Homo sapiens: one gene and its partner. The gene in region 1 interacts genetically with each later gene. Each region holds a gene or a part of one and is shown on either strand. Other genes may lie near its edges.

The links.
Region 2: changes in ASCC3 (region 1) and WDR7 together harm fitness more than expected from each alone (negative genetic interaction), as found in Homo sapiens cells (one large-scale study listed by BioGRID).

The regions. Positions count from the first base shown.
Region 1 is NC_000006.12:100,874,698-100,878,349, reverse strand, and holds part of ASCC3 (activating signal cointegrator 1 complex subunit 3), read left to right. Parts: intron 1-3,652. UniProt on the Homo sapiens protein: ATPase involved both in DNA repair and rescue of stalled ribosomes. 3'-5' DNA helicase involved in repair of alkylated DNA: promotes DNA unwinding to generate single-stranded substrate needed for ALKBH3, enabling ALKBH3 to process alkylated N3-methylcytosine (3mC) within double-stranded regions.
Region 2 is NC_000018.10:56,649,728-56,653,479, reverse strand, and holds the start of WDR7 (WD repeat-containing protein 7), read right to left. Parts: upstream 2,122-3,752; 5' UTR 1,904-2,121; intron 1,784-1,903; exon of another isoform or gene 1,682-1,783; intron 1-1,681.

The sequences.
Region 1 (3,652 bases):
TCCAGGATTTTTTTCCCCCACCTTTGAATGGGAAACCTAGTTAGAGGATAAGTTAGAGAATAAGAGCCCCATAGAAATTTGGTTGTTTTTAACCATTATATATTTTGTATTGTGTGAAAAGTGTTTATGTGTTTTATTATTTTTGTCATGCTTTCTCTGTTCTGCATGCTTCAGATGTGTTTCCTAACTTGATTGAGAACTATTCAGGAGCAATTGCTTCTTGCTTAAGAATGAGTTAGCATCTAAAGTGAACTTGTTAGGTGGAAACTGTGAATAGCTAAGATTACCTTTGAGAATCCCTTAAAAGGACATCAAGTTGGCATAACATGCTGTCTCTCAGCATGTCCTACACAGCCATGTTTTTCATCCTGACTTGGAATGTATCACAGTTTCTTTAGATGAACTCCCAGTGAAAAAGTTGCTCTGTGTTTGGTCACCACCTTGTATGTTTTTTAAAAAAAGAGAAAAAGTGTTAAAAACTAGAATCATGCAATGCAGCAAGATGCTCACATTTTGAGATGCATGTGGTGATTGAAACAGACTAAAAGAGCAAGATTCTTGTTGCCCATCCCCCATTCACTCTGGAGCAGATATTCAATACCTGAAATGGTAAGCAGAATCTCTAGTAATTATTGTTTTTGTCTGTCTCTGCCTTCCTTTTTTTGGCCTACAGTGTTTGGTAGATTCAAGAAAGTTAAATGTGCCTAGACTCTGCTGTATGAACCAATTGATGGTAATAAGGTTTAATACAAGTAAGAAATTAAATTATCTTTAGGATTTATCATGAAAAAATCACCCCCTTTTGAAATCGCATAATGGAGGATTATAAATATGTGTCGACGATGGTTATTTTCTGAGTTCTGATCTTGCTAATGTTAACAATATCACAACTCAATTTTTAAAAAAGGCACAATAAAATATAAATATTCTTATTCACTGTTTAATATTTATTCACTGTTCATTTTTCAAGGTGTGGTTTGTGGGTACAAGATTCTATTTTAAGTACTGAAATCTTAAATTCTAATTTTACTCCATTTACAACCTACTCCTTCATGTCAGTGTTTTTATCCCTTAATCTGCAGTATATCACTTTGACTATTTTTGTCCCTTTAATAATTCCCTAGTATCCATAATTGCCAGTAACTAAGTGCTGACTTTAAACTTATTAGGAAATATAGTTTGGCTGTTTTGGAGATCTTTTCATATTTTTATAACGAAAAAATACAGTAACTATCTTTTCCTAAAGTTGCTATCAAGCAGTCAGACCATCTTTAGAGTTTAGAAACACAGGTTTGGTTTAAGAAGAATAAACATTACAATTTTAAATGTAGTACTTCAGAATAGTGTGTACTGGAATTCTAGCTCACTGATTATTGGTTAATATCATCTTGCAAAAGGAAATATGCTACCATCAGTTTAGTTTTCTCCTTATTTGGAATGTAAAAAAGGACAGTTACATTTTTAAGACTTTCTTTTTACCTGTACGTATGTTTAATTAACAATTTAAAGATTTGTTCAGATAGCCACAGCCAGTACTTCTGACGAACAGAAGTAGGCTTTTAGGGTTTCAATCCTTTAGAAATTATATTTGTTCTGGGGCATTAAATATTTATTATTAACAGAATTTTTCATTTATATATTTGTCATTTAGTGGACCATATTAAATGTGGAGTAAAAATTAGTAAGGTAAAAATTGATATGTAGGCCAGTTTTTCTTAATCCTTATTCACTGTGATCTTACCAGAAATTTTAACTATGAATGTTATGATTCATCTTTAAGACCTCCTAGTTGAACATCTTTTCCTTTCATCTAGGCCTAAAGTTAAGCACTTAATAACCCTTATCATTTAGGCTTCATTGTCCCACTGCCTCTGTGTTACAAAACCTTAACCCTGGTTCACACCAACCTTTGTTCCTATGCCAGATTATTGCCACCTTAAATTGTTTGCAGTATGAGCTGAGCATTCATTGCTACCTGAAAAATATTTCTTCTATTATTGTGGGTGGTAAGTTCAGACTTTTGCCTCTGTGTTAGAAAAAATCCCACCTCATCACCTGTTTGAACAGTCTTAGCATATCTCAAATAAAATCAGAGTCATTTTGGTGGAACTCCCTTTTACCATGTTTTTCTCTCCTCATTCACCCTCTGCTTAACCATGTTATAACCATATGCACTTCCACTCATCCTTCCTTCCGTACTCCTTCATCTATCCAAGTCTCTCTAGACCTATGCTTTTGTTGTCATTCTCGCCTGCATTCTCAGAGACCCTACTCCATCAGTCACAGTCTTTCTCCTGATTGCTCAACTTTTCCTTCTCTCTTTGCTCTCCCCTGATTATGATAAAATCATGATCAACTCTATCCTTTATTTTCAGAAACTCTTAAACCACATTATTTCAGTATTTCCTACTTTTTCTCCTTTTCTTTCTCATTTTCTTGAAAGAATAGCATGTACCCATTTGTAGGGTTTTTTGTTTGTTTGTTTGTTTTTTCCCTATTTTCTCCCTTTGCGTTTATCCTTCAACTCACTGAGATTTAGCTTCTACCATTTTTGGAAACTAGGTGTGCTAGTCATCTAGGACCGCAGAGTGGCTGAGTACAGTGGACTGTATCATGTCATTTGAAACTTTCTTTTCTGTTGTCATATCACTTTTCCATATGACAACTGATTTGTGGATCACTTTCTTAGAACTCTGTTCTTAACTCTCTACTGTCTACTTCCAAGAGGCCTTTAGGGGTGGAGTGCATGAATGGGCATTCATGCAGCTTTTGAAATGGAGTACAAAATGTTGTTTATATGTATGTATGTCTGTTTTCTTAGGAAGAGGGTCCATGGGCTTATGTATATTTGACTTAGACAATATTATGTTCATCCATGGTTTTAACTATGATGAAGTGATAACATGAAATTCTGGATTTCCAGCCCAGACCTCTGATAGGAAATCCAAAACCATATGCCCCACTTGATAGCCCATAATTAAAGTTTTCCAAAACAGAATTATCATTCCTCTTCCTGATGCCCTCTATACATATAGACTCCTCCACTCTTCAACATTTCCTAAGCCAGAAATTTGAGTGTCCTGCTCCTTTCTCCTTCTTTAAATCCTATTCCACATTGATTCTGTCTTCCAAGTATACTGATCTCCTAAATCCATCCTTTTATGTGTTTCCCTGGCTTAATTCTATCCTCTCTGTCTTTCAGTTGGTTTATTGAAATAACTTCCCAACTGGTTTGCCTGTGTCCTGTTTGACCCCACCTTGACAGTTCACCACATGTAAATCTGAGTAATTTTTCTGTAACATGTTAGTATTTTTTCAGTGATTCTGATTATCAGAATGAAAAGTGCCTAATTTGAGACATGTTGTTTGGTCTCTGCTTACATTTTTAGGTCTTATTTCATCAGTTTCCAAATGCACATTCTGTAGGGGTTTTAAAAGTAATTAAGTCTGTTATTTTGGCTTTCCCCCTCATAGTTTACCTCTTGTAATAACCTTGTCTAGGTCCTTTAAGTCTCAGCTCAAGCTCAGCTTCCTTCTTTATATCTAGTGCCCTCCCACCCCTTTAGATGCTCCTTCCCTGTCTTCCTACAGTTATAGCTGCATAATTATTGCAACTATTTTTCTTTCTTCCCAACCATACTGTAAGCTCATC
Region 2 (3,752 bases), on another chromosome or scaffold:
ATCCCAGCACTTTGGGAGGCCAAGGCTGGTGGATCACCTGAGGTCAGGAGTTCGAGACCAGCCTGACCAACATGGTGAAACCCCATGTGTACTAAAAATACAAAAATTAGCCAGGCATGGTGGCACAGTCTGTAATCCCAAGCTAGTCAGGAGGCTGAGGCAGGAGAATCGCTTGAGCCCGGGATGGGGAGGTTGCAGTGAGCTGAGATCACGCCACTGCACTCCAGCCTGGGCAATAAGAGCGAAACTCCATCTAAAAAAAAAAAAGAAGAACGAAAAATGCAGGCAGGGGAGATGCCTTGAACAGCCCATTGAATTGAGTAAGATTAACTCCATCCTCTGCACCTGAGGTCCAAAATGAACTTTAAGGACTCATACATCTAATAAACATCACACCACTAAAGCTAAATGTCATCCTACCCCTCTCACGAAGAAAACACAAAACAAGCTCACTACTTTGAAGATTTTCGATGCTAAGTGTGTTACATGGAGAAACCACCCAACTTCCTTTAACTTCAAAACGGAACATATATCAAAGATAAAAGGAAACTGTAAGATACAAGGGTCACTACCCCTAAAATTTAAGTTAAATTCTTACAGGGATATTCAAACCAAGCCAAGCCCAGTCCCTTTGATTCACCCAGTCACCGAGATCTTTTAAAATTTAGTTACAGGTGGCAATAAGAAAAAATAAAGGGCATACTCTCATTTTTCTCTTAAAGTATTTCTCTGAAACACTCTTAAAATAAGGATTGGCAGTAAAATAAATGAATTTTCTACCATAATCCCTAATTGACATTAATAATAAAGCATTAATTATATTTATAGTGGTTCGTTTTCCCAATTTATAATAACTAATATGTATTGTTCTGGATGGAACTAGACAGTTTTTTATTCTTTGTAATAATGAGGGCATTTCAACACATTATGTTCACTTTTAAGCTGACCTTCATACAGCCACGAGTTTGTTTATAAAGCAAGAAGCAGAGTCAAACTAAAATTTTTGTTTTACAAAATGTCAAAAACTCAGTTAATTTCTTTCATACAACAGGCAATTCCTGCAACCTTGCCCATAAAATCCTAAGACATAAACACCTGAAAGAGTCAGTTTGCCTTTTTTTGTCTCATGGCAAATATTACAGTGAGAGGAAGCTATAGCTGCCACTGACCGAACCCTAAATTCAGCAGCATCAACAATATCAATGCAGCCTGTCATGCGACGGTAGGTTCCCTAGTTTCAGACTATCTAACCCAGCAAATTCTGCCTCAAAAAGTGACATACTAAGTGGGTAAAAAACATAAAACAGCAATTTTTGAATCAAAGTTAGGGTAGTGCTGACTTCAAACATAGCTTCAGAACGCTGGGACCCATCACTAAGTGAATGGGAGTGACTGGCATCCGCTCAGACAAGTACTAGGGCAAAGGGATAAGAACTGGCAGATGGCATCTCAAAAATGAAATTCTAACAGTGGTGTCAGTACCTTGGGCATGGGCAAAAATAGTACCAACAGGAAAGGAAAGACTATATGAACCCCAAAAGCAAGCACATCGCCCAAAATTGCTGTCAATAACCACCAACGATCATCACCAATCACCTGATCCCGTTTAGATTGCACCTGGGAACCAGGCAGTCCCACCTCAAGACCAAAGCAACTGTCACAAGTAGCAAATATCACTCACCAGGCAAGGGAGCCACAAAGACCCCCGGCTGGCCCCCACGCTCTTGGTAACGGCGCCTACTTTTGGGCCCGACCTGCAGGCTTGCAGCCGCAGCGATCTGACAGCTAGCACCGCCCCCGGCTAGAGCGGGTTTGTGACCTTTGACCCCTGACCCCTGACCTCCACGGTGCAGGAACATCCCGCCCTGTGGTTTCCCATGGAGAAGCTTGAAAGCCCCCTTACCTGTCACAGCTTCATCTCATGCCGCGATGTAGCCTATCAGACCGCCGGTGGGCGCCCCAGCCAAGGAGGACAAGGATAGGGCGGAACTACGGAGGATGCGGGGTGCGTAGATCCTGCTGGGATAATCCGTGGGGCGGCAAGCGCTATACAGCCGCCGTCTCCCCAGTGATACTGCAAGGTGCCGGTGCCGCCGCCGCCGCCACTGCAGTAAATCAGCTGACACCAGCCCCAACTGCCGTGACTTTCGCTGCAACTGTCGCAAAAATGAGGGGGCGGGAAAGACTCACCATTTCCCTACTTGCAAGGCCTAAGCCGGCGCCGAGAGAGCCAGCCGCGTTACGATGGAGACCGAAAGTGGAGAAAAGGCCAGCTGTGGGCAAGGAGTGCACGGCCGCCATCTTGGTTGTGGGAAGTCTCGTCTAGGCTGTCCTCTCTCCAGTTGGGAGGACCAAGATGGAGCGAAGGATGAAGTAGCAAGTGCACGTCTTTCTTGGGAGCAGGATGTTGCGCAAGTTTACACTTCTGACCCCATCACACTGCTTCCCACTGAGATGCAAGAGGTAGGGAATTCCCTAAACACTGGAAAGTATGTTGGATGCTGGAAAGCTAAAAAGAATGACAAATGTCCCCCAAGATAGATAAGCTATAGTATAGTGCAGGATGAGAAATGCCAAATAAGGAGCAAGGAAGAAAAGAGATGAATTATTTCTAGGTTGGGGTAAGGAAGGATAATCACATTAGGTCATATGGAAGTCTAGAAAAATTGGTCAGATTTGGAATAATAATTGGGAAAGGAAAACAACTTTGTCACCAGCATTGAAATGTAAAACATGAATATATGCAATAAATAGAAAGTTAAATTTGGAAGAAATACAAGGGACGTGAAGTAGGTGAAGTGGGAAAATGTGGTATCAGGGCTTAGCTGTTTCTGCTCCGTGAGCGGCTCCTTTAACAGGCAGTCTATGCCCTGGAGCTCTCTTGTGGGTTGATAGAGACTTCATCACATTCGGCCTAGACCAGGTAATAAAAAAGTAACATGGAAAAATAGAATAATGTAGATAACAAGAGGCTTTTAGTGGCCATATAAGCTTTTTGGTCTTTATTCCAAAGACAATGAAAAGTAATTGAAGACTTTTGACTAATAAATAGTGTAGCACTTTTCCTAACCACATGGTATTCAGGTTTTTAAAATTGCTTTACAACAAATTATCACAGTCTTAGTGTCTTAGTGGCTTAAAGCAACACATATGTATTGCCTCACATTCCATGGGCAAGGAGGTCAGGAACAGGTTAGCTGAGTCCTGTGCTCATGCTCTCACAAGGCTACAAGTGGATGTCAGCCAAACTGCAATTCTCATCTGGAGGCTCAACTAGGGAAGAATCTGATTCCAAACTCCTGTCAGCTCATTCAGTTCCTTGTGGCTGTCTGACTAGGGGCCCTGGCTTCTTACTGGCTCTGAACTGGAAGTGGCCATCAGGTCCTAGCAGCCACCCACAGTTCCTTACCACATGGGCCTTACTAAAGGCTCTCTCGCAACATGGCAGCATACTCCTTCAAAGCTAGCAAGGAGAATCTCTCTACTGAGCACAAGAAAGGAGTCACACAGATATAGATACAGCCATGGATATGGACATGGACATAGATATGGAAATGGATGTAGATGATAACCTAAATTAGGGAGTGACAGCCATCACCTTTGCCATATATTATTGGTTAAAGTAAGTCACGGGTTTTATCTGTACTCAAGGAGAAAGGATTATACAAGAGTGTGACTTATCGGGGTCACTTAAGATGGGCCAGCCACAAATATTAATTTGGCAGCAATGTGCCATGTAAATCAGGTGGGAA